Linked DNA regions of Homo sapiens. The main gene of each other region encodes a partner of the protein of the gene in region 2 in a complex. Each region holds a gene or a part of one and is shown on either strand. Other genes may lie near its edges. The genes, in order: ETFA, ACADM and ETFB.

Region 1 (9,947 bases), on a different chromosome or scaffold from region 2:
TATACACAAAGACATGGACAACTCTGGAAATCTTTCCAAGTGGAAAGAAGGGTAGGAATTATACACAAGATGGCCCTGAAATTCAAGCCAGTTCTATCTATAATTGAGAAGCCAACCATACTCTGCAGAATTCATGGAAGTCCATCAATAAGATGGCACCAAGTGGCAAAGTTATGCAGATAAGATTTATACCATGCTCCCCCTGGTGCCAGTGACTAGGTGTGCAACAGAAACCCCAAACTGTGTATTATGCTCATAATTTCATTTTCCTAATTGGTTAAATGGGAATAATATCCCAAACTTCCCAACTTCTTACATTTGAAAAAGATCTGTGTACTTCTAAAATAAATACTAAAAATAAAAAAAAAAATCAAAGTATTTTCAATTTACATCTTTTAAGATTAATATTTCACTTACCACCAGATACCACCACTTTGGCACCTGTTAGCTCTGGTCGATCACTTTTTGTTAATTTCTGGTCAAGCCACTCTGATATTTCCACTGGTGAAGTACTTGATGCTGCATACATTAATACATAATAAAACAATGACTATGATTTCAAGTTCTATAACAAGAATTATTTTCAAGAGAAACACACAAGTATATAATTCCACGAAATTTAAGTTAATTACTGTGAATTTTCAGTGCTCCTAATTAATTCTCTCTGATAATGGAAAGACTTAAGGAGACTAGATTCCAGCCTTTGCCACATTAGCTGTATGACTCCAGAAATCATTCAATTCTCTGAGTCTGAATATAGAATAACTTTCTTTCTATGAGGTTCAAATAAGACACTATATATGTTAAAGTGTGACACCCTCCACACGTTTCCTATTACATTCTTCTGTTATACTGAATCACCCAAATATAATAGGAAACAGTGACAAGAGTAAAAAAGCTTAATCTTAATAGATCCTCTGTCTCCCACTCCCTTGATCTACCAAAGCAACTATCCTAGTACCAAAGATAATGTGAAAAAGATGTAAGTTATACATATTTATTATTTTTGTATAAGCTTGGGAATATCATTTAAATTGAACTTTCAAATACTATTCATTAGAAATGTAGGCAGAGGTCATCTCTTATTATAATACAGTCTATGAATTAAAAAAGTAAGAAACAAAACAAAAAAACTCCAAATGAACACTCACCCTTTTCTGAACTGGCACTACCGCCACTTGTTGCTGCAGCATCAAAGGATGTTCCACGGACAGAAAACACTTTCACTTTCTCATCACACTTCACTGTACATAGAGCATTTCCTGAAACATACAATCTATTTCTTAAAAGCAACAGCAAAAGGCAACAAAACTAGCACTCCTTTGATGCTTGGAATTTACTTCACAGACAAGGCAAGAAATAACTATTGACCAGTTGTCTTCTAACTCTATTAAGTATAGGAAAAAATGAACCATAACGGTGAAGAAACATATCAGCAGATATCTGTATAACCCTGGATGTCTTTAAAAGCAGGACAGGTACTACCACACCTAGAAGGAAGAAACTCGAACAGGCATCCACACTAAGAAGGTACACTACACCTCTAAAAGGAATATGAACAAAGCTTCCTTCTCCAAAAACAATACAATCAGTAACTCAAAACTATGAGCTGCAACAACTTAGGAAGAATGTAGCTACTGTGCATGCTAAAGGAGGAATATCTTGAAAACACAATAGGTCATAAAGAACAGGTATGAATGTGCTAAGATTTTAAGAGGATTTGAGACACTCTGGATTAGCTATCACATTAACAGTAACCTAAACCATGACAAAATATTTTCCCTCAAACATTATGGAAGATGAAAAGTCTAATTTCAGAATTAGCCATTCATACTGGAATACACAACTTTAATCAGGCAAAAAACGAAGAGTTCACTGCCTTCTCCGACCCCACTAGAGACCAGTGTGCTAAGCAAAAAATCAACTGAAGAGACACTGAAATGAATTTCTTTTCTTTTTCTTGAGACAGGGTCTTGCTCTGTTGCCCAGGCTGGAGTGCTGTGGCATGATCACAACTCACCATAGCCTCGACCTTCTGGCTCAAGCAATCCTCCCACCTCAGCCTCCCAAGTATCTGTGACTACAGGCATATGCCAACATGCCTAGCTAATTTATTTTATTTATTTATTTTTGAGATAGGGTCTTATTATGTTGCCCAGGATAGCCTCAAACTCCTGAGTTCAAGTAATCCTCCCACCTCAGCCTGCCAAAGTGCTGGGATTATAGGCACGAGCCACTGCAGCTGGCTAAAATGAATTTCTTAATGCCTATGGAAATGAAGTAGAAGCAGCAAAGATTGAGAATACTATTTTTTTTTAAGTTTTGCTTTTCCAGGTACCACTTACAAAATATATTAAATTGTGAATCTAATTTTTATTGATCACTAGGAAAATATCACCCTGCAAACTGAATAAACAGGCAGGAAATCTCTGTGTTTGCGATCCATCAGAGAGAATGCCATGTCAAGGGCCACCAGCAATTCTAGACTAAAATTTTCCTCAGAAACCTTTAAGATGGTCCACTTAAAGCAATTGTATGGTTTGATTTAAAATTCTATCTTCAAGATTAATTTATGCTTTTCACTAAAATTTAACATGTTGATTAATTATCTTCCTTGAGTACTCACCTGCATAAATAGTTCTCACAAATGTGTCAGGTGACTTGATTGCAATGATGTCAGAAATCGGGGCAACCTCAAGTTTGGCTGCTACTCTGGGCAAAAGGTTCTAAAAGCAAAATAAGCAGTGAGTTAACACACATACATAGTGATGGAAGACTATAAATGATCAGTAATGACATATTCTAAATGCATATTCTGTAGAAATTTTAATTCAAATATTTTATATTTCGTGTGCACCTTTGGATACACAACTTCAAGCACAGCTTTTTAAATAGCCTTTGAGATTGAGTACTTACCATTACTCTAACTACATTAAGAGTTTCATGAGTTTTACAGTATTAAGCCACCTTAATGCAATATATTGAACTATGAGATATGAAATTTAATAAACATCAATTACCAAGTGTGACAGTTGTGGATTATTGAATTTAGATAAGAAAAGATAGAACAAATTTAGAAGGGTGGTAAAATTCTCAAATACTGAAAAAGATTATGCTTGTATACATTTACTTAATGTATATAAAAGAAAAAAATTCACAGCAGACATTTCACCTTTTGTTTAAATTGATATTGTATAAAAAAAAGAGTAAGGCCAGGTACAGTGGCTGACACCTGTAATCCCAGCACTTTGGGAGGCTGAGGATCACCTGAGGCCAGGAGTTTGAGACCAATGTGGCCAACATGGTGAAACACCATCTCTACTAAAAATACAAAAAATTAGCCGGGGATGGTGGTGTATGCCTGTAGTCCCAGCTACTCAGGAGGCTGAGGCATGAGAATGAGAATTGCTTGAACCTGGGAGGCGGAGGTTGCAGTGAGCTGAGATAGTACCACCACACTCCAGCCTTGGTGACAGAGCGAGACTCTGCCTCAAAAGAAAAAAAAAAAAAAGGAAAAGAATAACACTAACCTGAAGAACAGCCTGTGTAGTACATATTTAAAAAGCAACAAAAATAAAATAAAGGTGTGTTCTTGTGCTTGTACTGAAATAGATGCATGTGCTAACTTTGTCCTCAGCAGCAGGAATCCTTGGGAAAGTCACAGTTCCCCAAGTCTCAGTTAATTCTTCTTCTTCTTCTTCTTTTTTTTTTTTTTTGGAAACAGGGTCTCATTCTGTTACCCAGGCTGAACTTGCAGTGGTGTGATCATAGCTCACTGTAACCTTGAACTCCTGGGCTCAAGAGATTATTCTGCCTTGGCCTCCTGAGTAGCTGGGACTACAGGCGCACGCTACTGCGTCCAGCTCATTTTTTGGTTTATGTTTTGTTTTTTTCTGTAGAAGCGGGGTCTTGCGTTGTTGTCCAGGCTGGTCTCGAATTCCTGGCCTCAGCTGATCCTCCTGCCTTGGCACCCCAAAGTGCTGGGATTACAGACATGAGCCACCATGCCCATTCTGAAGCACCTACTTAATCTGGTTTAAAAACCAGATTTGTCAGTATTTAAAGCTAGCTTCAGTAAGTAATCCTCCTCCTGAACCACCTTCTTTAACTGTTCAGGAATTATTACTGGAATAGTTACTTGGCTGAACAGATTATCTTACAAATTTTATGTTATACAGACTTTGCCTCTTTTAAAAGTTTTAGAACTTTCTAAATTGCTCAAAATTTAATGTCTTTTGTATTTTCATTATCCCTTGTTTAACATATCTTCAAGAAATTTTACCATGGTACTTAAAAGTATGTTTTCCTGGATCTGGTCTTCTATCTAAACATCATGAGGGTGGATGGTACACAGATATCTATCCTATTAAAAATATATCCCATCCAACAAGCTGCCTGCATGGTTTCTGGGAAGAAGAAGCAATAATTGAGTTCTTTTTGTGCATAAAAAATGACATATTTTAAAATTCTAGCAGACAAGTATAAAAGTGTGTTATCTCAAAACCACAGCTGGTGAAGGACTATCATACAGCAAATTGTTTGGCTTCTTCTGATAGACGTTTCTCATTCCAAACCCATTTACAGGCCGCACGACCAGCTACTATTATGTGACCCTTATTCTCAAAACTCCCATCTGTTACAACATAGCAATCATGGCCAGAGTACTAAAATCTAGCTAATGACAAACACCCTTTCATGGTCTAACACTCTGTTAGGTGAACTGTCATCATAGAAGGAAACTCAAGGCTCATGAAATTATTTAAATCATCCAATATATAATCAAAACTCTCAGAGACAGAACGGTCCACAAAGATTATTTCACCCATCAGACTGGAGGAAAAAATGTTAAAATGTATACTACCAAGTGTTGACAATTAAGTAATAGGTATCAAAATTTTTAAACTACATAGCATTTGACTCAGTGATTTCACCTCTAGAACTCTATTGTAAATAAATTCCAGCCCATGTTTACACAGATACATGCATGACCATGTTTTCTTGCAGTAAAGTATATAAATGCAAAAAACTGGAACCAAGTTAACTGTCCTTAGCTAAACATGGAATCTTATGCAGCCATAAAAAAAGAGAAACATTATGAGCCAAAGTCGCTACTCTTTTTTTTTTTTTTTTTTTTTGAGACAGGGTGTTGCTCTGTCACCCTGGAGCACAGGCTGGAGTGCAGCAGTGTAATCTCAGCTCATTGCAGCCTCAACCTTCCAGGCTCAAGCAATTCTCCCACTTCAGCCTCCCAAGTAGCTGGGACCACAGGCATGCACCACCACACTCAGCTAATTTTTTTTTTTCATTTTTTTGTAGAGATGAGATCTCACTGTATTGCCCAGGCTGGGCTACAACTCCTGGGCTCAGACAATCCTCCCAAAGTGCTGGGATTACAGGCGTCAGCCACCGCACCCTGCCCAAGTCATACTCTTAAGTAAAAGCTACTATTCACAAAACAATTCATGCCATATTATCCCATTTTAGAAGTAAAAAATATATAGCTGTACATGTACTGTAATTTAAAAATCCATAGAAGGAGGCCTAAAAGAATGTACAATTGTTAACAGCTATACTTCTAAAGAGGGGAGGGTGAGTTGGGAATAAGAAAGCAGGACTTTGACACCTTGCTCTGCACACTGCTGTACTACACGCAGTCTTCCTAATAAGGATGTATTTGTGTACAACTTATTTTACAATTTTTAAAAGTGAAAATAGGCTAAGCACAGTGACTTATGTCTGTAATCCTAGCACTTTGGGAGGCTGAAATGAGAGGATGACTTGAGGCCAGGAGTTTAAGACAAGCCCGCACAACATAGGGAGACTACATCGATACAAAAAATTTGAAAATTAGCTGGGCATGGTGGCATGTACCTGTAGTCCTAGCTACTCAGAAGGCTAGGATAGGAGGATCGTTTGAGCCCACAAGTTGGAGGGTATGTTGAGCTACAATCGTGCCACTGCACTCCAGTCTGGGCAACAGAGCTAGGCTGAAGCAGGCAGATCACCTGAGGTCAGGAGTTCGAGACCAGCCTGGTCAACACGGCGAAACCCTGTCTCTACTAAACATACAAAAATTAGCCAGGTGTGGTGGCACGCACCTATAATCCCAGCTACACACGGGAGGCTGAGGCAGGAGAATGGCTTGAACCCAGGAGGTAGAGGTTGCAGTGAGCTGAGATTGTGCTGCTGCACTCCAGCCTGGGCGAGGAAAGTAAGACTCCATCTCGAAAAAAAAAAAAAAAAAAAGTAGGCCAGGCGCGGTGGCTCACGCCTGTAATCCCAGTACTTTGGGGGGCCGAGGCGGGCGGATCACGAGGTCAGGAGATCAAGACCATCCTGGCTAACACAGTGAAACCCCGTCTCTACTAAAAATACAAAAAATTAGCCGGGCGAGCTGGCGGGCGCCTGTAGTCCCAGCTACTCGGGAGGCTGAGGCAGGAGAATGGCGTGAACCCCGGGGGGCGGAGCCTGCAGTGAGCCGAGATGGCGCCACTGCACTCCAACCTGGGCGACAGTGAGACTCCATCTCAAAAAAAAGAAAGTAAAAATAAAGACTAAAAATGACACCTTATTAAGAATGGAACAAAAGAAAAGAGAGCTAAGATAACACCCACGGCCACAGAGAGAGAGCAAGAAAAATCCACTGACGAATTCCTTGTCTTAAGCTCCCATTACACTCCTCCCTCCATTTTTAACTTTATGTAGACTGCTATCCATCTTATAACACACTCATTCTTCAGACACATCACAATGCACATGATCAGATTACAGCTTTCTTTACCTTAAGGATGTCTTCAACCACCACAAGCCCTTTCCAAATTCCCTACGTAGATAAAATTTGGCTTTTCTAGATATCCATCAGCCATCCAAATAAACCATCTCTTAAAATGGGCTACTAATAGAAATGACTCTTGCTCGTTCACTCTCTCTCTCACATGCAAGCAGAATTCAGCATTACTTTTACATGCAGAAAATTTTAAAATAATAGCCTAATTAGAGTTTTCTCCACAACATAATTTGAAAACCTGGAAATGGTAGTTTTAACGGAAAATTATGACAAAATCTTGAAAGAATAAATTTTAGCAAAACTACCACATCAATTCAGATAAATCCAGATTGGCTACATAAACAGTCTGTTGCATACTTTCAGCACAATGAAATCTAACCCTTTCAAGCAGTGATATCAGATTCCACATTCTCAACCTTCTCACCTTTCCGAAGGCAGATGCTCCAGCACAGATGTGTGTGTAATTGAACTGCTTCTGAGTTGCCAAAATCAATGGTGTCAGTTCCTCTGAGAATTAAACACATTTGATAAAAAAATATTTTGAAATACTTTCATATTCATATATTCAAGCGTAATTTAGACACTACATTTTTTTCTACTGGAAAACCTCACCTGGAAGTAGGCCTTTGTACACATCATGCTGAGCCACCAGAACTTTTGCTATGCCTGCTACTTTACAGAGATCTTGTGCCACCTATGATTAAAAGATAAGTTCCTAATTATCCATCTATCAGAAATATACAAATAAAGCCACCACTATAAATATCAACAGATCATAAAATCTTAATGGCCAACTGTAAAAATTATTCTTATTAGCAAAAGGGCCAGTTAAGAATTAAAATATATTCCGGCCGGGCGCAGTGGCTCAAGCCTGTAATCCCAGCACTCTGAGAGGCTGAGGCAGGCAGATCACCGGAGTCAAGAGTTCAAGACCAGCCTGGCCAACATGGTGAAACCCCATCTCTACTAAAAATACAAAAATTAGCTAGGCATGGTGGCGGGCACCTGTAATCCCAGCTACTTGGGAGACTGAGGCAAGAGAATGGCTTGAACCCAGGAGGCGGAGGTTACAGTGAGCCAAGATCACACCACTTCACTCCAGACTGGGCGAAAGAGTGAAACTCCATCTCAAACAAACAAAGAATTAAAATATTAAAATACATTCCTTAACAAAGAAAATCTAATGCCAATAGATCTTACTACTGACTGACCTTACACTGTCCAACTACCAAGCATTTCAACAAAAATTCCTGCCTTGAAAAAGAAAAGTGCTAATTGACAAACCAAAATCAACATGGCTCTTTATTCAAATTTTGTTATAAATTGTGCTTTTTACTTTTGGTTCAATCCAAGTGTAAGTTCAATGTCCTGGAAATGGTGAAAATGAAGTTCTCTAGTAACATCCCATTGTCAACCACTGAGTTCCTGCCCACATACACATATTTATCTATGACAAAGCAAAATATTTCCTATTTTAATTCTTCATTTTTCCTGTTTGGAATTAGAATGGGGTTCTGAGAAAGCTTTTTGATGATTCAGATTTTCTATATTCAGAAGGCAATTAGATTTCCCCTTTTTAAGTATCTTTATTACCTCATGGCTGGTTTCCACTTTAGCTAAGTCATATCAGTCATACTATCGTCTTCTGTCTCCTTGTTTACCTCCAAACTGATTCATTGATTCACTGATGAGTAGGATTAAAAGGCTGTGCCTTGTGCCACCCTCATATGAACTGTTAGCTTGCAACAATATTCACTGAAGAAAGGATGCAGTGCAAGAATACATTCTCTGCTAAACCAAGTGTTCACCGGCATACCATTTGTACTACAGAGGCCCTTTATTATGGATGCAGCTGCATTTAGCTTCTCAAACTTTAAGAGAATTTCCAATTAAGAAACTCAGTTAATTGCAATGTAGCTGCATAGCAGCATGGGATAGAAAATGGGGCAGAATTTTCCCATTGAAACTATCTTGTTTTTACTGGCAAAACGGCTGGCATTATACAGAAGAATAACTTGCTGTTTATGACAAGTAGCTGAATAAAATGGTATAAAACCGAACTCTATTAAACGATCTCTTCATACAGGTACTGGTTGTTTTCTTTAAAATTAGAACATGACAGGTTAGGATTGTAACTGAGTACAGAAGACGATTTCTATTTTGATTTTTCTCAAAGTAGTATAAAGTATCAAAGTCTTTTTAAAGTAATATTACAATAATTATTTTAAATCACAGCAAAACAAACAACAAATCACAAATTCCTATATATCCAAAAACAGGGAAACCAAAAAGATAGCTTAGCCATCATATACTGTGGCTAATACAGACATACAAATAGATAGCTTAGCCATCACACATCACACATTGTGGCTGTATCAACTATGTAAGATCCTACAGTTGTTAGCAGGAATTGGGTAAAGAAATCCACATAACTAATCATAAACCCACCAGAATATGTTCTTTTATCAATTTCATGTAAAAAATTAGACAGAAGCAACACCAGCAGTATGAACCTCCATTATCACATGCTCTGAATTATTGTTATTTTTAATATATTTTTTGAGACACAGTCTCACTTTGTCACCCAGGCTGGAGTGCAGTGGTACAATATCTGCTTATTGCAAACTCTGCCACCAAGGTTCAAGTGGTTCTCGTGCCTCAGCCTTCCAAGTAGCTGGGACTACAGGCATGCATCACCACACTGGCTAATTTTTATATTTTTAGTAGAGACAGGATTTCACCATGTTGCCCAGGCTGGTCTCAAACACCTGACCTCAAGTGATCTACCCACCTCAGCTTCCCAAAGTCCTGGGATTATAGGCATGAGCCACCATGCCCAGCCAGCATCAATTATTTAATAAAACATAAAATCCTCAAAACATACTCCCTTCAGATTTATTCCTCTGTGAAGTTTAAGCCCCCAACTACACACTCAGCAACTCCTATACCATGTGAGAGGGAACTGGTGGCTGAAGGTGTGTAAGCTTAACTGAAGCACTCATCTATATTGCAGGCTGGTGGTATAGACCCTGCAAATCATATCATAGCACCTTTCTAGAGGGTTAGTGTTCCAAGCTGTTATCATCTGATTTCAACAATAACAACAACAACAACAACAAACAAACCCAAGAACATCTTTTAGTACCAGCTAGAGTTTGGA
Region 2 (10,642 bases):
GGAGACGGAGGTTGCAGTGAGCTGAGATTGGGCCACTGCACTCCAGTCTGGGAGAGAGAGTGAGACCCTGTCTCAAAAAAAAAAAAAAGGAAAAGAAAAGAAAAAATATCAGAAGTTCTCACTCATAAGTAGGATCTGAACATTGAGAGTACACATGGACACAAAGAAGGAAACAACAGACACTGGGGCTACTTGAGGGTGGAGGGTAGGAAGAGGGAGATCAAAAAACTACCTATTGGGTACTACGCTTATTATCTGGGTGACAAAATAATCTGTGCACCAAACCTGTGACATGCAGTTTACCTATATAATAAACCTGCACACGTACCTCTGAACCTAAAATAATTTTTTTAAAAAAATAAGGTGAATTTAAAAATATGTATATTGATGGGGGTGAAACTTAGAGAAAAATTAGAGTCATGGGACTCATCCCAGCAAGGTGGGAATCTTCAAATGGTTATTAAGAAATGGAATGAATAAAATGGAAATTGATGGGGTTAAAACAAAGGTCTTAATACAACACTGCCAAAAGTTCGGTGGACCAAAGGGAGCCCCTGCTGGTCCCTCAACATTAAAGGGCCAATTTTCTGTATTTGCCCGATTGGAGAAATCGTAAAAGAGAAAGCTGACCAACAATTGCCTGAGGTAATGTTGAGGTGGTTAATGAAGATATACAAAGTTCCTTGGCTCAATTCCCTACTGGGAACACAAAGTGTTTTTCACCAGAGGCTTTTTTACAAAATGATCTTGGGTGGAGAAGAAAAGTTTCTGGGGCTAGAACACAAAAATGTAAAGATTGATAGGATTATGAAAGTTAAAAAGTTTGTAAATAAACTTTATATAAAGTTGTGACACCTTTACTTAAATGTTTCATGAAAACGGACATTGTATCTGACCAGAGCATGTTTCTCCTACTTAGTACTGCAAACTAGAAGGCATTTCTAGTAATGGTAAATCTGCCATTTAAGCAATATTAACTGGACATGCTAAATGGGAGCCAGTAAATTGCTCAAGCCCTCAGAGGGTAGAGTAGAAGATGGAGTGCTGGTAGGGATGAAACCTCCACTTGATAGCCCTTTGTGGAGTGTTTACTAGGGGTCATAGCAAAGGCCTGTGAGCACCTCCCAACAACCACTACTGGGACTGTGGACTACAGAATTTCTACTTGAGAGGCATTTCTGCCTTGGAATGGGACATTAACAGAAGCTATCCCTATGACTGGAGGACATAAAATGATCTTGACACCTAAAATACACATGCTGTCTGGAGTGATGTCAGAGAAACACTCTAACGGGGATAGCAGTGCCCAGAAGAGTACATAATAAAATGGGAATGGATCTTGCTACCTGAGGAGTGCAAAGAGGATATACTCATGAGCTGCGAGCCTCTTTCTCTCCTAGGACTGATCCTGGAACTGGTGAGGAGTTGCTGGATACCATAGTACCTGACAAACAGCTCTAACCTAAGAGTTGCTTGGCTTGTGGATGGCAGTTCCAAGGTCATCAGGCAACATCCTGTTTGGAAGGCATTACTCTGATTGAAGAAGAGTCAAGAAAACTTTTTTGTTTTGAGCTCTTTATAACTTATAATGATTAAGTGTATTTTTGTAAGCAAAATTTGTCCTTCTCTCTATATGAGTTCTCCCAAATTTGAAAACTATTTGTGTTATTTTATGGCAATATAGTTATGTACATATGTTCAATATGAATGTTTTCTTTTGTAATAGGACACAATTGGAGACACATTATTTTACCAAGGCTTTGACTGGAATGGTCTATTTTCAGACATGATCAATCTGCTTGGGGAATTGAAGTTGACTGCAGAGAGCCAATAAAAAGCCCATGGAAAGACTGGTTCCCTAAGAAGTTTCCTGACCCGTGGTAAGTAATGAATGTCACTTTCTAACAGGATCAGAAATCTCAAGATATTTTGAGACCTCAAGAAGAGAGAAATTTGTACAGGTATTATAAATGCAGTCTAATGGTGAATCCTTGGCTTTGCTTCTGGCGTTGAGGCTTTAAAACACTGGAATAAAAAATTCTGATAGTTCTAGCAAAGCCAACTTAAAAGGAGCCTATATGGCTGATCACTATTCCTGCTACAATTTATTCAAATAACCAGGCCAATATAATGAGACAAATTTATTTTGCAAATAAATTGGTCCTAGTATAATTTATCCTTGGTAGAAATAAGAAAACTGGAGAAAAAAAAATCTTAGATTCTAGCCCTGACCACTGCTTTTGAGTTTTTATAATTTGCCTATAATTTGGACTAAATCCTGAATTATTTCCTGGCTACAAGAAGTCTCTAAAAAGGAACTTGGTTTTAATTTTCTTCATGATGCTTTTAGTTGGCTGCTTACTCGAATAGGCTCCTTTCATTTTTGTTCTGGCATACAAATTCTCTTCTGATTGTAATCCTTGTGTGGATTGTATTTCTACTATTCAAATTATTGATGCTATGTATCTTTTGTTGTTTTACTTCCGAGAAAACTAAAGTCATAGTATTCTGAAGACTAGAGAAATTCAACGAAGCCTGTCAATCTCCCTTGTTTGAAATCCCAAGGAGTATGTTGGCAATGAGAAACCAATATGGCCCAGTGGGATTTCAAAGGCTCTGGGACCATTGCAAAAAAGAAGGGTGCGTGAGACTCTACACATGAATTAGTGGAATGTGGAGGACAAAGCAACGCCACCTAGGATGTTAATCCACCATGTGGACTTCCCCTGTTCTGGGAAGGCTTCTAAGATTTCCCCTCTCTCTATTGTTTCTTGTGTAAAAGCATGTACTTACTGTAAATCCTGCCCTTAGATCAAGACAACTTTGATGTTATTGTATTTCAATTGTCCTACATGTCCCTTCTGAGTCACCCTTTCCCTGTGGTATACAACCCCTGGGTCTGAGGGGTAATGGCACTGGGATCCACCATCTTGTCTCACTGCCGCCTGAGATGCAGACAGGGCTTCTGTTTTTAAGTCTCCATTAAATGTTTCTTTTTGAGAAACGTTAATGTGTCAGCCTCTTTCTTTAGCCTCTCAGCTTCCTTAGACTTTGGAGCGTAGGTCTGTATAGTCCTGCTTACCTTGAAATAGATGGGTTAGGGAGAAGGAACACCAGGGAGACGTTCGAATTATTTCACCTAAAAATGTAGAGAAGTTTTGTGAAACAGTGCTTAATTAATAAAAAGGTATTTCTTGAGAGATGGTTCTATTCCTACTACTGGCAAAAATGTAGATGAAAGATTGTTTGGCATGATGCCAAATATTACCCTATAAATTACTTCCTAATTGCAAAGGGAAAACTATAACTTTACCATAGAAAGAACTGTCTGTCAATAATCAAATGATCAAATAGCATTGTCAACAAAGAGTCAAACTTTGTAAAATATTTGAAGAGATTTATTCCGAGCCAAATATGAGTGATCATGGCCCACGACACAGTCCTTGGGAGATCCTGAGAACATGTGCTCAGGGTGGTTGGGGTGCAGGTTGGTTTTATATATTTTAGGGAAATATGAGACTTCAATCAAATACATTTAAGAAATACATTGGTTCAGTTCAGAAAGACAGGACAACTTGAAGCAGGGGTGGAGCTGGGGGGGTAGGCGGGGGGAGGTTCCAGGTTATAGGCAGATTTAAACATTTTCTGGCTGACACTTGGTTAAGTTTATCTAAAGACCTGGAACCAACAGAAAGGAAATGTCTGGGTTAAGATTAAAGGATTGTGGAGACCAAAGTTCTTATTGTGCAAAGGAAGCCTTCAGGTGAGAACAGAAAAGCATTCTGTTATCTCTCTCCTTCAGAGAGAAGAGATTGTAAATGTTTCTTATCAGACTTAAGGTCTGTGTTGATGTTAACATCACTGAGGTATAAAGAGGCATGTCCAACCCCCACTTCCCATCATGGCCTGAAGTAGTCTTTCAGGTTAAATTTAAATTTTAGAGTGCCCTAGCCTACGAGAAAGTCCATTCAGATAGTTGGGGGGAATTTAGAATTTTGTTTTTGGTTTACAGCAAGCTTGTCCAACCTGCTGCCCACAGACCACATGCAACCCACAGGCCACATGCAGCTCAGGACAGCTTTGCATGCAGCCCAACATAAATTTGTAAGCTTTCTTAAAACGTTATGAAATTTTCTTGCGTTTTTGTTTTGGTTTGTAGCTTATCAGTTAACATTAGTGTTAGTGTATTTTATGTATAGCCCAAGACAATTCTTTTTCTTCCAGTGTGGCCCAGGGAAGCCAAAAGATTGGACACTGCTGGCTTACACCATCACCAATAGTGGGACAAATCTGATATTAAATGCCTCCTAATGTAATACAATATTAACTACACAGTATGACCTTTGAAGTATCCTTATCCAATGTTTAATCTGAACTCCTCAAGCCTCTGGTAACTTGCAACTGATAGGAAATACAAAATCTAGAGGTACAAAATAAATAAAATCGGACAATCCAGCATTAGGGCATTCTTCATGACAACTGCTTGGTATCTTAAATTTGTTTAAAAAGACAGTTATTATTGGGAAAAATGAATTAGATTAAAAGCTTTAGATTAAAAGAAGCCAAAGAAAGTTAAAGCCCAACTTCAATGGGCAATCATTCATAGGATCCTGGTTCAAAAACAAACTATTTACAAAAGGTATTCTGGAGACAACTGGACAACTGGAGAAATGTAAATATTCTCTGGACCTTAAATAATAGTAGCGAATAATTGTTAATTTTCATTGATGTGATAAAGGTTTTATAGGAAATGGTTATATAGGAAAATGTCCTTGTAGGAGACATATAGCTAAAGTATTCTGAACTGAAGTGTCTTATCTACAACCTACAGATCTGAGAAAAATAAAACCAACAACCAAAACACACACACATAGGTACACATATAAATATATAAATAAATATGGAAAAATATTTGAATCTAGGTGATAATGATATTGAGAAGAAATTACTCAGGCCGATAGTACGAGTATGGGAGTCCTCAGTGTAAAAAGTGAAGTAGAGGTTCCTCTTCAAATGGACTTTCCTTTCCGTCTAATTAGGAATAAACAGTAACTTCTCTTAAAAGCAAAATTTATTCAAAGAACTGTGCTAACATATTGGAGGCCGAAACAATGAGGTTCGTGATCAACTCAGTATATCACTGGAGGCTATATGAGTAAGCAGCAAACTGTTTCTCATAAATGCAGAACGTTGGCGAACTGACAAACTGCGTATGCCACCCAGGAGGACTGCTGAGGGTAGTTACGATCTAGGCACAAATGTTTCTTATGATTAGGCATAATTGAAGCCTGTCAGTAACAATATGAACCTGTGATCAATTAAGCAGCTGACCAATCGTTACCACCTCCTCCCTGCTCCTGTTACCCAAAAAATAGGAAGGGCTGTGGAAGCTCTGTGGCTGCCTTTGCTCACGAGAAGCAGGGAGCTCTCTTCTTCTTCCCCTGGCCCTTTCCTTAAAACAGTTCCTTTTGTCTTAAGTTATCATTTCTACGTTCGTCCCTTCATTTGATCTCACAATGATGGTCTCAAGCAGTAACAGTAGTAACTGCTGTAACGATGGTCTCAAGTAGTAACCGTGGCAGTTGGCCACACTAACATTCTTTGATATCTGTTGGCCGTAATAAAGAAATCAATGTACTTTGTGCTCTTAGCTGCCACATTTTAGCCTAGATATTTGCCCTGGCATGCTTATACTGGTCCAAGGAAGCATTAGGCCATAGCCTGTTTTCTTCCTTATCTGGAGGTGTTTTTACCTTTCTCAGCATTCCACAAGTTGCTTCCTCCTTCCTTTGTTCTCCTCTGTCTTTGCCTCTTTTGGAAAGTTCTAAGTTGCTAGCCAATCAGGACAAGTACAGAGGTCCCCTTCCAGCCAATGGAAACCGGACACGGTAGTAGGGTGCACGTGTCAGGTTATAAATGACCCTGTCTCCTTTATGCGTGTGTGCTCTCGTGGCAAGACTACTAGCGAGCGGCAACCTTTCTGCAGAAAGTAAACTAGCCTTGCTAAGAGCTCCTTTGTCTCAGTGTTGATTTTTGCAACACTGAGCGCCCGTTCCCAACATCAGTAAGGCTTTTCTTTTTAATGAAAAGCAGCCCCAAATCCTTTTCTAAGAGCAGCCTGTGAAGTCGAGCTGCAGGCACAGACAAACAAGGGGGTAGCTTGCTTGGGTGAATGGTGGCAGGAACTACCGACTAGACATGTTTAAGATGAGGGCTCCATCTTCGCTTCTCTGCCAGCCACGTGTACAGTAAGAAGGGGTTACAATAGGCATATGGGTGATTTTGTGCTTTTCGTTCATCTTTTCTGTGTTTAAAATGTTCAGAATAAGAAATTGGAACAAAGGAGACATGAATAGACAATTCCTAATCATCTTTAAGAGTCCGCTTTGTGTTTTACTTACCACCACCACTTTGAAGGCTTTCTTGCCTATACCAGGACAAACTCAGCTCTTTATCCCTTTTCCGAATTTTCCTGGTACTTTCACTTTGAATATAGCGCTTAATTAACATTCTGCCTTGTACCTAGGACTAACACACTATAAATTCCCAGAAGACAAAGTAGGGGAATACAATAACAGGATATAGAATTTTAACAGCTAAATTAGATGAATTTATGGGTGACCTTTATTGGGCAAAAGAAAATGTTAAGTTAGTATAAGATTTAGTATAAGCTACCATCTCAAAACTCAGGGTCTCACTGGAAGAGAAAGTGACTCCAGGTAGAATTCCTCAGGGAGACATTCACTTCCATCATTCGCTGAACCAGGAGCTTTGGACAGCCTCGGATTGCACCCGCATATCCAAGGACACCACATCAGCGGACAAGTCATAAACAGCCTTGGGAATACGCGGAAAGGTCAAATTTACCTAAACAATTAAATTCTCTTTTAAATTTTAAGGAAACACAAGTATGCTTTCGCTTTAGGTAGGGCATTTGAGAGCAAAATGTACTAATACTTTGAATCCGCCAAGCAGACACGATCTGGGTTTGACCGTTCTCTCCGGGTAAAGGTGAAGGCTGACCACGGGGGCCGCTCTCCCTCCAGGCCCCAGCCACGCCCTCTAACCCAGGTTCCCGTCCTGCACCGCGCCGCAAGTCCCCCCACCGTTCAGCGCAACCGGGCCCTCCCAGCCCCGCCGCCGTCCCCCTCCCCCGCCCTGGCTCTCTTTCCGCGCTGCGGTCAGCCTCGGCGTCCCACAGAGAGGGCCAGAGGTGGAAACGCAGAAAACCAAACCAGGACTATCAGAGATTGCCCGGAGAGGGGATGCGACCCCTCCCCAGGTCGCAGCGACGGCGCACGCAAGGGTCACGGAGCATGCGTTGGCTACCCGGCGCCGGGGACCGCTGCCACCCCGCCTAGCGCAGCGCCCCGTCCTTCCGCAGCCCAACCGCCTCTTCCCGCCCCGCCCCATCCCGCCCACGGGCTCCAGTGGGCGGGACCAGAGGAGTCCCGCGTTCGGGGAGTATGTCAAGGCCGTGACCCGTGTATTATTGTCCGAGTGGCCGGAACGGGAGCCAACATGGCAGCGGGGTTCGGGCGATGCTGCAGGGTGAGAGGGAGCCCAGCGGTGCGGTGGGGCTGGAACATGGGTATTGTGGTGTCGGAGCAGGGGGCCCTGGGCCAAAAATAGGTGCGGCCGGGAGGAGTGGGAAGTCGGGCTGAGGAAGGAGCCAGCCTAGGGGCCCCCAACCTGCTTTCACGCCTCCTACCACCGGACGGAACGTAGCCTAGCGTTTCATTTTCCGTATCCTCCCGTCAGGCGACCCCGTTATAGCCGGCATCCTCTCTTTAGAATATCGTTTTTCTTTCTCTGGTAAACCCTCCAAATATTTACCGCGGGAATCCCACCTTTTTCCAAAGTGACCCCGTCTCTGTGTCAGAACCACGGGAAAAAGAAAAATGGAGCAGCTACTCCTTGAAATACTTAATGTTTAATAAGCTTTTCGTTGTAACGTTTCCACGTTGCTTACGGGAAAAAAAAAAGTAAAAAAAAAACCTGCAGAATTTTATGTGAACTTGTGTGTATATTCTAGTATTGGATCTTAATAGATTCTAAATAAGTTTGTCACTAGATGAATTTTGGTATCTTAAATATTCTTGATATGTTCACACCACTGCCATTTAGATGTCACTTAAAATTAAGTTAAAGTTATGTCTTGGACCAAAAAAGCTGCGGTTTTAGAATAATCCTAAAGAATTGCTGCCCATGTTTTGCTGGTGTTATGCAAGTTAATGTGCAGTGAAGGCAGAAATTGGGAGATTTCAGCTATTTTTAACTCCTACACCAGAAAAGCAGATTTCTCAACCTCCAAGGAAGGATCTAAAAAAAACCTGATATAGAAAACTTACACCCTTTTTCTCTTCTTTAACCCATAAAACTGACACTCTTATATTCCCAAGAAATGCACAAAAGTGTTCAATTCTAGTGGTGCTGTTTCGATATTTGGAATTTCATTGTTCTAGACAGAGAGCCCGAAGTAATAAAACCAATAGTTATATAGCATTAGGCTTTCAAAACATTATCGTACTTTAATCGTCCGAAAATACGCAGTGAGATTAGTCCCATTTTTTGGTTTTGAACGGAAGCTATAAGCAGTTTGTAAACCTGTCTACGGCCACAAATATGGTTGTGGAACCTAGATTCACATTCAGCAATTATAACTCCAGATCCCGTGCTGTTTCTGTTTTCTATTTGCAAACCACCTCTCTAATTAACTGGCTAACTTTGTTATGTAATTAACAGGTTGATGGGCATTGTATTCTGGTAATAGCAACCTTTGCACTTTGTTCTATGTAACATATTTTCCTGAACAGTCACATGTGAAGTGACTTTTTCCCTATTTAAATTCCCTCGGTTGGCCAGGTGCGGCGGCTCACGGTTGTGATCCTAGCACCTTGGGAGGCCTCGGCGGGTTGATCACTTAAGGCCAGGAGTTCGAGACCAGCCTGGCCAAAGCAGGGAAACCCTGTCTTTACTAAAAATAGGAAAAATTAGCTGGGCATGGTAGCATATGCCTGTAATCCCAGGAGGCTGAGTCTGCAGTGAGCGGAGATCTCTCCACCGCACTCTAGCCTGGGTGACAGAGGGAGACTCTGTCAAAAAAAAAAAAAAGTCCCTCAGTAGACCATTTAACCTGGTTTGAGTTCTGACTTTTGTGCATGGTATTTAAAAACGCATTTATAATAGAGTCAGGTTTTTTGTTCTGATTTTTGTGGAATGTTTTCCTTTGTTATGGAACCTAGTGACCAATTAGGATACTAACAGAAAGATCAGTATAGCAAGGTGGTTAATAGCATGCGCTCTTGATAGTAAATGTTAGAATCCTGGTTGCACTAATAGTAGAGTGACTTTGCCTAATTTAGTTGACTTTCTGAGCCTTCGTTTCTTCACATGCGAAAGTGGAATAAAAGTAATGGCTTAATCCTAGACTTGACCTGGGATTCAGTGAATTAACCTGTGTAACGCGACTGTAAATCAGAGTAGATTTGGTCTGTGACTGCTGGACAATAAGCACCAGAGAAACTGTTTCACTTTTTTTTTTTTTTTTTTTTTTGAGACGGAGTCTTGCTCTGTCACCCAGGCTGGAATGCAATGGTGCAGTCTAGGCTCACTGCAACCTCCGCCTTCCGGGTTCAAGCGATTCTCCTGCCTCAGCGTCCCGAGTAGCTGGGACTACAGGTGCGTGCCACCACACCTGGCTAATTTTTGTATTTTTAGTAGAAATGGGGTTTCACCATGTTGGTCAGGCTGGTCTCAAACCCCTGACCTCGTGATCCGCCCACCTCAGCCTCCCAAAGTGCTGGGATTACACGCATGAGCCACCCCACCTGGCACTGTTTCACTTTCAAAATAAAATTAATGAAGATGCAAAGAAAATGCGAGTTTTCATACTCTGTATGTTTTTATTACTGTAGTATGAGGTATGTTATTTGGAAAGCACTGTTTCAATTACAAATATTTGACACTCTTAATTATATTGTCACCTTACATGTAGGAATTCGTCTTTTATAAGTTGAAATTGTCATCTACAAAGACAGTTTCTTTTTACGGATTTTGAAAAACATAAGAATTTAAATAAAGAAACTTTAGTATATTCTTCAGCTGCTCTTTTCTCTTAGTATCTAAGCTTGTTAAAATTGCTGGATAGTTCAATTAAAATCTTTTACAGTGAAAATTGTGTAATTTTGACTGTCCTGAAACCTTTACTCAAGAACACCATTGTGGTTCCCAGTTTGGCAGCTTTAATAAATGCAAATTTTTACTTTTGTATCCATTAAACTGTCATGAATATAAAAATGGGTTGCAAAACAATAATATATGTATATTTGATTGTTTGTTTCTTTATATGTTCCTTTGAAGAAATATGACTATATTTCAGATCCTAAGACAAGTAGTGTATTAGTAGTTTAGAAGAGGGATGGCAAACGTGTTTGTAAAGGAACGGATAGTACATGTTTTTGGCTTTGTGAACCAGATGGTCTCTGTGGTAACTACTTAGATCTGCTGTGAAAGCGGCAATAGACAGCATGATGTGGCTGCACTGGTTTGGTGACTCCTTGCTCAGAACATTGTAAGAATCCCTGTAGACAGCAGAAAATACAGAACATGGTTTTATGCTAATTTGTTTTGTTAGAGTGGG
Region 3 (9,946 bases), on a different chromosome or scaffold from region 2:
TGCTGAGAGCAGGAGGGGCAAGTGCGTGGAGCCCAAAGAGGAAAACCTGAAGAAACACCAGGCGCTCCCAGACGAGAGGGTGTGGCTGGTCGGGGTTGGGCCCCGAGATGGAAACACGTTTTCTGGGCCTGGAGTTTCTATCCTGTGGGGTCATCTCTAAGAAAATGAATCCCAGATAATGAATACAAAATTGCCCAGCCTCTCCTGGGTTTTTTTTTTTTTTTTTTTTTTTGTGAGACGGAGTCTCCCTCTGTCACCCAGGCTGGAGTGCAGTGGCACGATCTCGGTTCACTGCAACCTCCGCCTCCCTGGTTCAAGCGATTCTTCTGCCTCAGCCCCCCGAGTAGCTGGGACTACGGGCACGCGCCGCCATGCCCAGCTAATTTTTGTATTTTTAGTAGAGACAGAGTTTCACTCTGTTGGCTAGGATGGTCTTGAACTCCTGACCTCGTGATCCACCCACCTCAGCCTCCCAAAGTGTGTGTTTACAGGCGTGAGCCACCAGGCCCAGCCTTTCTCCTGGGGTCTTGAAAGAGGCCCTGAAGGTTAAGCTTCATCAGCTTCCTGTAAAATGTGCCCCTGAACAGGACAGGGTGTTACTGAGTTGCCAAATACCTATTAAAATGTTAGATACACGCACATACCCAGAAACATACACACAGCCGGACACACATACACACACACACACACACACACACACACACACACACACACACGAATACACTCTGAGCACAGCATTTGTTATGTTTTGAATAAATGACTAACTAAACATCCATTACTACTACTCCCAATAAAAACACTTATTGCAGCTGGTCACAGTGGCTCACACCTGTAATCCCAGCACGTTGGGAGGCTGAGGCGGGTGGATTACCTGAGGTCAGGAGGTCTAGACCAGCCTGGCTAACATAGCAAAACCTCGTTTCTACTAAAAATACAAAAATTAGCCAGGCGTGGTGGCTCACACGTGTAATCCCAGCTACTCAGGAGGCTGAGGCAGAGTTGCTTGAACCTGGGAAGTGGAGGTTCCAGTGAGCTGAGATCATGCCACTGCACTCCAGCCTGGGCAACAGAGATAGACTCCGTCTCAAAAAATAAAACAAAACAAACCACTGTGTGCCAGGCACTGTTCCAAGGGCTTATTTAATTTTCATTACAACTCAATAAAGTAGATAGTACCATCATCCCCATTGTACAGAGTAGAAAAATGAGGCTTAGAGTGGTGAAGCAATTTCCTCAAGGTCACACAGCAGGAAGTGGACGCAGGCGCTGGGCTTGGAGTCTGAGGTCTGCACTATTCTAGTAGTGAACCCACTGTCTCAGGAAGCAGTGACCACATCAAACTGTCTCCCCCACACCTGGAGCTCAAATTCCAGAAGGGGCGACAGACACCAGAGCAATCAATAAGTAAACAACACTGTGGATTACAAAGTGTCCACACCAGCTTCCCTCTGGGGACAAGCTGGGCTCTCAGAGGGTGCCCCTGCTCCCACCTCCTTCATGGAGAATGTGAGTCACTCCCTCCACTCAGTTAGGTTGGCTCCTTGAACTTTCATCTCTAGCAAACATACTTTCCTCTCCCTTTCTAGTTGCTAAGTATAGGGGAAAACACAGCAAAACACAGGGACCTGGGGCCTGTGATTTTAAGGAGGCAAGCAGGGAAGTCCTCCCAGAGAAGGTGATGTTTGAAAAGGAGGTGAAAGAGGTCAGGGAGTGAGCACGTGATTCTGGGAACAGAGGTGGATCAGACATGGCCCCTCTCTGCAGGGAGCTACCAGCCTGGGGATGATGGAGTAGGGCAGTGGGGAACATGGGGTAAACAGAGGATCCCAATCCAGTCTGGCGAGGGCTGATGGAAGCAAATCTAGGGACTGCAGAAGCCCCCAGGGATATACCAAGGCAACCTGAGGGTGTAGGGTCAGGGGCTTCCTGGAGGAGGCGATGCCAGGGAGAATCACTAAATTATTATTATTATTATTTTGAGACTGAGTCTAGCTCTGTCACCCAGGCTGGAGTACAGGGACACAATCCTGGCTCACTGCAACCTCTGCCTCCCAGGTTCAAGCGATTCTCCTGCCTCAGCCTCCCGAGTAGCTGGGACTACAGATACGTGCCACCATGCCTGGCTAATTTTTTTATTTTTAGGAGAGATGGGGTTTCACCATGTTGGCCTGGCTGGTCTCAAACTCCTGACCTCAACTGATCCACTCGCCTCAGCCTCACAAAGTGCAGGGATTAGAGGTGTGAGCCACCGCGCCTGGCCGAGAATCACTAGATTTTGATATAATCCATGAGTTGGAGTTGGGCAGGACAAAGGACAGAAAGCAGAGGTAGGAGGGTGGTGCTGGAAGAAGGCATGGAACGGGCAAGCCGCGGCCTGGTCTGTCAGGACAGGAGGAGCAGGTCACAGTGGCAGAAGCACAAAGGGTAAGGGAGGGTCCAAGGAGGGAAGTGGACGGCTGAAGCAGACCATGAAGAGGAGGCTGGACCACAAAGCATCCCAAATGCCAGGCAGAGGGGCTGCGACTCTGTCCTGAGGGTGCTGGGGAGCCACAGGCAGGCTGGGAGCAGGGGAGAGCAGGGTGAGCTCTGGGTGCAGAAAGGCCCCTAAGGCTGGGTAGAGGTGGGCTGAGAGGGAGAGACTGGGAGTGAGGGAGGACCCGGGTGAGGGTCCAGGTGAGACAATGACACCAAGAGACAATAGGGCAAGAAGGGTGGGGGGTGGAGAACTGACAGCTTTGGGAGAAGGGAAAGAGGGTGGGACAGTACCCAGGTCTAATCTGGTGTTTAGGAAGCTGGCAGGGTCTGAATCATTTATTTGTTCTGAAAAGGACATCAACAGACACATCCAGTGAGACAGGATGTAATGCAGGGAGCCCTGGGGCACTGCGGGAGGGGAAGGCAGCACCCTCTGGAAAGGACAGTAGCTGATTCAACGCGGCCTTCACGCTTCCCCTCTGTTCTCTCCCTGAGCACACCAGAGACATCCATGTGCCAGGCTCTGTGCTGAGTGATGCTGGGACCAGAGCTGAGTCAAACGTGGGCCTGCACCATGGGGGAGACGGATCCAATCCCAGACATGCCAGGCGTGGAAGGCCAGGGCTGGGATGGAGAGAAGAGGCCCAGGGAGCTGTAGGACTCCAAAGATGTGACAGTAACGAACAGTCAGAGCAGGGAGGAAACCAAGTGTTGGGTCCCAGGACCCCAAGAGGAATGTGTCTCAAAAGGGCTACAGGTGACATCCCTGTCATGTGCTGCCAGAGGCATCATTAGGACAGGGGGCATTGAGGGAGATGGGAGAGCAGAGTCTAGAGCCAGACTTGCCCGGGGTTTCGATCGTAACTCTGCCACTTACTGGCTGGGAGATCTGACAGGCCTCAGTTTCCTCATCTATCCAATGGAATTAATAATACAAAGGGTCGGCCAGGCACGGTGGCTCACACCTGTAATCCCAGCACTTTGGGGGGCCGAGGCAGGCGGGTGGATCACCTGAGGTCTGGAGTTTGAGACCAGCCTGACCAACATGGTGAAACCCCATCTCTACTAAAAATACAAAAAATTAGCCAGGTGTGGTGGCACATGCCTGTAATCCCAGCTACCTGGGAGGCTGAGGTAGGAGAATTGCTTGAACTCGGGAGGCTGAGGTTGCAGTGAGCCAAGACTGCGCCATTGCACTCCAGCCTGGGCAAAAAGAGCAAAACTCCGTCTCAAAAAATAAAAATAAATAATAAATAATACAAAGGGTACTGAAAGGACTGAATGGGTTAATCTCTGCAAAGGACTTGGAACGATGCCTGCCACGTAAGTACCCGCTAAATGCTGGCTGCTATCATCACTGACACTTTCATGCTCAAGTCTGGCTCCTGTACCCTCTTCCCCAGCCCACTCCCTAAGCAGGCAGGGGCAGTATCAGTGTCAACTTTGTGACCCTGGTTTTGCCCACCCTGAGGCCTCCAGGGTGCCAGGCCCTGCGCTAGGTAATGCTGGGGACACGGAGGTAAGTCCCCAGGCTGATGGGAAGGACAGACATGGACAGACAGTCACCATCTTCAGTCCAGTTCAGGCCAAGCATTGAGAGAAACGGGCCTGAGAGACCGTGTCTGATTCACCTCTGTCCACACCAGCTTCCCTCTGGGGACAACAAGCCAGGCGCTGAGAGCACCCTCCCCCACCTCTTTCATGGAGAATGTGAGCTACCCCCAGCTCAGTCAGGTTGGCTCCTTGAACTTTCATCTCTAGCAAACACACTTCTCTCTCCCTAGCTAGAGCCTCCTGGCTCACCCTGTGGCTATGGAGGGTGGAAAGCAGCTTCTGGGGCCCCACAGGACCCTGTCTGACTCCCTCTATAGCACATTTCGGGTAATATAAGAGTACAATGGTAAGTAATGCAGCCTAGTGGGTGAAAGCAGTCAGAGGAACCTGGATAGAACTCTCGGCTCTGCCCTTCTCTAGCTGGGTGACCTCTCTGTGCCTCAGTTTCTCCGTGCATTAAACAGGGACCGTGACTTCTTCCAGTGGGTAAGAAATAGAGAAAGCAACTCACTCTGAACAGTTATCAAGAGAGTGAATCCAGAACGAGGGAAAAGAGAACATGGCCGTGACCCCGGAGGGATCGGATGTTAGAACTTCACTCTTGGATTTTTGCCCTCAGGTGACTTTGACGTTTGGGGGTTAAAGCGGCAGAGGTCGGGGGTTACGAGAAGACCCCCACCCAGTGTGCGCTCGTGGCCCCGGAAGCACACGGCTGCGGGACTCAGGGATGTGGGAGAGGGGGGCCCGATCACCTTCACGGCGTAGTCGATGACCCTCTTGACAGCTACGAGCACGCGCAGCTCCGCCATCTTCCCGCCGCAGCCACTTACAGGGTCAGCCCGCACCCTCAGCGGCTCAGTCCAGAAGCCCCACCACCCCCGCCCCCCGCGCCCCTCTCTGCGCCTGCGCGCAGCACGGTCAGCCAGTCAACCGCTGCAGAGCCCGCCTCCCCGACAGAGGACCAATCGAGAGGCCGGAAGGAAGGGAGGTGTGGCAAGCAATGCAAACCAATGGGAAGCGGATCTCGGGGAGCGAGCGGGACCTGGAGAGAGAAGGAAAGGCCTGGCGGAGAGGGCAGGGCAGAGAACTAGGGGAAAGGTCGTGCACTGGAGGGAAGCGCGCCCGGAGTTTATAGATCCTCCCGGTCCTATAAACACTTCCCGGTATCCCCGGATCTGCTCTCCCTCTCCAGATCCCCCACTTCTTCCCGGCCTCTCCAAGTCGCGGTACTCGTATTCCCACGCCTCTGAATCCTCGCGCGTCGGTCTCTCCACTCTCTCCATCCCCGTGTTCCCTGTCCCTTCCATATCCGTATCCTCCCCTGTCCGTGTCTCTACTTCACCTCCATGTCGTCCCCACAGCCTCTCCACACCCTCTCCAAAGGCCCACGTCCCCTCCTGGCCCCGCCCCTCCCACATGTCCCTGTTCCCATCCCAATCCATGGAGACTTGTGTCTCCATGTCTGTGTCTCCCTGTCTCCACGTTCCCTATGAGTTCATGTCCTTATGTCTTCCCTGAGCCTCTATGCAACCCCGTGCCTGCGTCCCCACGACCCGCAGAAAAGCACGCGGAGCCGCAGCGCTAAAAAAAGCCGTTCCTTTATTCTGCCCCAGGCAGGCTGCAGTCACAGACACACGGGGAATCCACTGATGGCGTCGGTGCTCTGCATGATCATGTCTGCCAGCAGAAAGCAGAAGCCTGGGGGGACGGGGGTGCGGAGCAGGGAGAGGAAGGTGGGCCCTGGGGCGGATGGCCGGGAGGGCCCCGGGGACTGGGGTTTGGGGCTCCAAGGGGGTCTCTGCCGGGTCTGCGGGAGTCGTTAGTGTGTTGGGGAGTCCCCGAGAGGTCCCCGGGGTTTCCTGGGAGGGCAGCTGGGGAGCCTCTGGGGTGAGGGTCTTCTGGGCAGTCTCCTCCACCCTCTTCCCGCTGTCCAGTTTACCCGCGAGAATTGAGAAGGGTAAGGCCAGCCACCCAGAAAAATAGGACCAAGAGAAGAAGACGTTGTTCTTCCACGCATTCTTCACGGTGTAGCCTATCAAGGCGGTCAGCAGCAGCAGTCCTGGGCCCCGCCCAGCCGCAAGATGAGCTAGCTGGGCCTGGTGGGGGCTGCACCCAGGCCACGCCCCTTCAGACCCGCCCCCTTCTATCAGACCACGCCTATCGCCTCTCAGCCCGCCCCTGGCCCAGGCCCCTTCCTGCTCCTCCCGCTCTGAACTCTGTCTCGAGCCCCGCCCACCTCTCTCGGCTTCTTCCAGCCCTGCCCCTCGGATCCTGGCCGAGTACCTCAAGCCCCTCCCCTGGCGACCAGGCCCCTCCATCACCCAGGGCCCGCCCCTGCCTGCCCGCCTGGGGCGGTCTGCAGTCTCACCGCCGAGGAAGAGGAAGGCGCTCGTGGTCTGGCCCCGCAGCGACTCGCCCTCGTCGCACCGAATCCGCAGTCCCATCACCATGCCCACCACGCCGACACCCACCGCCAGCACCATGCACGCCACAGTCACCGCCAGCGTGGCTGGGGAGAGCGGGCGCATCAGCCCCCGCGGGCGCCGCCCCAGTCACTACGGGTTCGGCCGCAACCGGAAGCTCTCCCGTCTCCTGCCCCCAACCCGGTGTGTGGCCAGGAGCCGAGCTCCACCGACCGGGAGTCAGGCGTTTGGATTGAGACTTGGAGGTCACATCAGGACCTGCGGTTACTGCCGCTACCAGGACGGGGAGGGGGTCGGGGACAAGCCCACAAGTCGAGGGGCGGGGTTCGTGGCGGCCTCGGCCGACAAGGGACAGCTGCAACTGAGCCCGGGGTGGAAGGGGTGGGCGTCTCGCCATGGGCCCAGCTGTGTGTCCCGAGCCCTGGGGGTCTGAAATGCCCTCTGACATCTGGGCGGGCGGAGCCTCACTCTGGCAGGGGATGCTGGAGCAGATGCCGTGGTTGCATTCCTGCCACAGGCCACTGTGGCCCTCTTGTTGGCGGGTCCAGTAGTTGGTGGCCGTGGAGAGCACCATGAGGACGTTGGCCACGAGGCTGAGCAGAATGCCCCCACTCTGGAGGCTCCGCTTCACCCCCATGCCACTGAGGCTGCAGCCGGGGGCCACAAGGGCAGGATGGGCCCAGGCCTTTCCTACCCCGAGGCCCCCAGCTGAGGAGCCCGCTTCCTCCACACTCCTCCCCTGGTACTCCTGCCTGAGGTCCCTGCTTCTGGGGACCTGGAGACCCCCCTCCCTCAACAACCCTGCCTGAGGATCCACAACCTCCTCCCTCCAGACCTCGTTCCCCTTACTGGAGACCTTGAGACTTCCCCTGAGAGGCCTCTGAGACCTTCACCACAGGCTTTGCTGTGAGGAACCTGTCTTCCCAGAGACCTCCCCCGACAGCCGAACGCCCTTTCAGCCCAGCCTGTTCAATGTCCTCCCCAGACACCCCTCCACACAGGCCCACCTAAGTGACTCACACCCAGTGCCCTAGGGCTCCTTAGACACAGAGCCCAGAGAGACGGGGGGAGGGAGGCTGGGTCTCTGTGAGGCCAGGGGTTCCAGAACCCCCTCCCCCAGTGGCTGTTTAAAGGGATAATCACTCCCCCCACCACCATCGCATACACCCCCGCAGCTCTCAACTGAGTGACTGCTTAGATTCAGATCTCAGCTTTGGGGGCCGTTACATGATAGGCCGAGTCCTTCTTTTATCATTATTATCATTATTATTTTTTGAGATGGAGTCTTGCTCTGTCACCCAGGCTGGAGCGCAGTGGCACGATCTCGGCTCACTGCAACCTCCACCTCCTGGGTTCAAGCAATTCTTCTGCCTCAGCCTCACAAGTAGCTGGGACTGCAGGCGCACACCACCACATCTGGCTAATTTTTGTATTTTTAGTAGAGACGGGGTTTCACCATATTGGCCAGGCTGGTCTTGGACTCCTGACCTTGTGATCTGCCTGCCTCAGCCTCCCAAAGTGCTGGGATTACAGGCGTGAGCCATCTCTCTCTCCCAGGCTGGAGTGCAGTGGCACCATCACAGCTCACTGCAGCCTTGAACTCCTGGGCTCAAGGAAACCTCCTGCCTCGGCCTCCTGAGTAGCTGGGACTACAGGCATGTGCCACCACACCTGGCTAATTTTCTTAAGATTTTTTGTAGAGATGGGGTCTTGCTATGTTGCCCAATCTGATCTCAAACTCTTGGGCTCAAGCGATCCTCCTACCTTGGCCTCCCAAAATGCTGACATTATGGATGTGAGCCACCACTCCCAGCCCTTTCTTAGAAACTTCTCTTTCCCTTGGCCGGGTGCGCAGTGGCTCACGCCTGTAATCCCAGCACTTTAGGAGGCCGAGGCGGGCAGATCACCTGAAGTCAGGGGTTTGAGACAAGCCTGACCAACATGGCAAAACCCCGTCTCTACTAAAAATACAAAAATTAGCCAGGCTAGCCGGGGGTGATGGCAGGTGCCTATAATCCCAGCTACTGGGGATGCGAGGCAGGAGAATCACTTGAACCCGGGAGGTGGAGGTTGCAGTTAGCTGAGATCGCGCCATTGCATTCTAGCCTGGGCGACAGAGCAAGACTCCATCTCAAAAAAAAAAAAAAAAAGACAAAATTAGCCAGGTATGGTGGCGCACGCCTGTAATCCCAGCTACTCAAGAGGCTGAGGGAGGAGAATTGCTTGAACCCGGGAGGCAGAGGTTGCAGTGAGCCAAGATCACACCACTGCACTCCAGCCTGGGTGATAGAACAAGACTCCGTCTCAAAAAAAAAAAACAACCTTCTCTTCCCTTGACATTCTAGGCACCGCAGAAGCTCTCCAGGTCCCCAGCTGTCTGACTGCAGACTTCTGCTCCTCTGCCTTCTCCCCTTCACTTGTAAATCTGGGTATCCCTTGAAGCTCCACCCTGCACTCTCTTGCCAGGCAAGCCTCCTCACGGCCAAAGTTTCAGTGCTCCTTAATGCTCCATCCAAAACTCCATCTCCAACCCAAGGTCTCTCCCCTGAGCCTGACTCAAGTTCTCACCTGCTCCTGGCTGCCCCTCAGGGCCTTAATAGTCAACCATATTCCAACTGAGCTTAGTGTCTTCCACCATATTAGGGATGGCCCTGCCATCCCATCCAGTTCATCGAGCCAGACCCTTGGGCACTGTCCTCACCTTCTTCTTGCCCTTCACCCTGAAAAGCCTTGGGTCCCTAAGTCCTGCTCCTCCTGCCCCTGAATCTGTCTGGCTCATTCCCTCCTTTCCTGGTCCCAGGTCAGGCCTCATCATGTCCCACCTATTGCATTGCCAAGTTCCTCCCTCACCTTCTGGCCTCCCCTCCATGTCTACAGGGGGGTCTTTCTGGCACCCAGAGCTGACACTGTCCCTCCCCTGCCCACAATTTTTCTCCCAACTCCCCATCATGTTCAAGAGAAAGTCCAGCATGACATTAGAGGCCACAGCCCCCACCTGCCTCTCCCTCTTCATTTTCCATCCCCCGCCCCCCACATTCTATATCCTGACCCTAAATTACCGATCTTCATCCCCACAAGACTCCTGACTTTTCTGCACGTTCATCTTTGGGCCCCTCTGCCTGGATATTACCTTTCCCTGGCCCTTAAGAAGCTCCTAAATGTTCTCTCTCCAGAAAAGTCGTCTCCATCCCTCCACAATATGGTCAGTCTTTTTCCGGCATTCTCCCTGCACTGGGACTGCTGTCTGGCCTGTATTAACTGCTTCTGGTCTGTAAGTGCCTCCTCCCCACCACCCCACAGACTGAGCCCCTGCTGGGCAGGGCCTGGGTCTGACCCGTGCCAGTGTCCCCAGCATGGGGAAATGTGCAAAGAGAACTGACTGAGTGCAAGGAAGGGCTGAGTTCTGGCAAGGGGGACAAAATCAGAGAGGGAGAGAGAAGGAAAGAGAGCCAGCTAAAGGGAGAAAGACACAGGGAGGAAGAAAAGTGCTGGAG

Evidence for each region.
Region 1: the proteins of ACADM (region 2) and ETFA are in contact, whole or in part, in a crystal structure (PDB 2A1T), measured with the Homo sapiens proteins. Residues at the interface, in NP_000007.1 of Homo sapiens: Pro163, Lys173, Pro211, Gln232, Arg235, Glu237, Val251, Glu253; in NP_000117.1 of Homo sapiens: Arg223, Lys226, Arg249, Asp253, Ala283, Ile284, Gln285, Glu304.
Region 3: the proteins of ACADM (region 2) and ETFB are in contact, whole or in part, in a crystal structure (PDB 2A1T), measured with the Homo sapiens proteins. Residues at the interface, in NP_000007.1 of Homo sapiens: Glu43, Gln44, Lys46, Glu47, Phe48, Thr51, Lys54, Phe55, Glu58, Glu59, Arg80, Glu83, Leu84, Gly85, Leu86, Leu98, Leu100, Ile108; in NP_001976.1 of Homo sapiens: Glu73, Arg76, Thr77, Tyr192, Ala193, Thr194, Leu195, Pro196, Ile198, Met199, Lys202.

The regions. Positions count from the first base shown.
Region 1 is NC_000015.10:76,285,220-76,295,166, forward strand, and holds part of ETFA (electron transfer flavoprotein subunit alpha, mitochondrial), read right to left. Parts: intron 7,482-9,947; coding exon 7,400-7,481; intron 7,295-7,399; coding exon 7,212-7,294; intron 2,727-7,211; coding exon 2,627-2,726; intron 1,263-2,626; coding exon 1,152-1,262; intron 520-1,151; coding exon 418-519; intron 1-417. UniProt on the Homo sapiens protein: Heterodimeric electron transfer flavoprotein that accepts electrons from several mitochondrial dehydrogenases, including acyl-CoA dehydrogenases, glutaryl-CoA and sarcosine dehydrogenase.
Region 2 is NC_000001.11:75,717,267-75,727,908, forward strand, and holds the start of ACADM (medium-chain specific acyl-CoA dehydrogenase, mitochondrial isoform a precursor), read left to right. Parts: upstream 1-7,442; 5' UTR 7,443-7,521; coding exon 7,522-7,551; intron 7,552-10,642. UniProt on the Homo sapiens protein: Medium-chain specific acyl-CoA dehydrogenase is one of the acyl-CoA dehydrogenases that catalyze the first step of mitochondrial fatty acid beta-oxidation, an aerobic process breaking down fatty acids into acetyl-CoA and allowing the production of energy from fats.
Region 3 is NC_000019.10:51,361,489-51,371,434, forward strand, and holds the start of ETFB (electron transfer flavoprotein subunit beta), read right to left. Parts: upstream 4,901-9,946; 5' UTR 4,839-4,900; coding exon 4,782-4,838; intron 4,642-4,781; exon of another isoform or gene 4,541-4,641; intron 1-4,540. Other genes in the region: CLDND2 (claudin domain-containing protein 2), read right to left, coding at 5,517-6,088, 6,398-6,538, 6,921-7,089. UniProt on the Homo sapiens protein: Heterodimeric electron transfer flavoprotein that accepts electrons from several mitochondrial dehydrogenases, including acyl-CoA dehydrogenases, glutaryl-CoA and sarcosine dehydrogenase.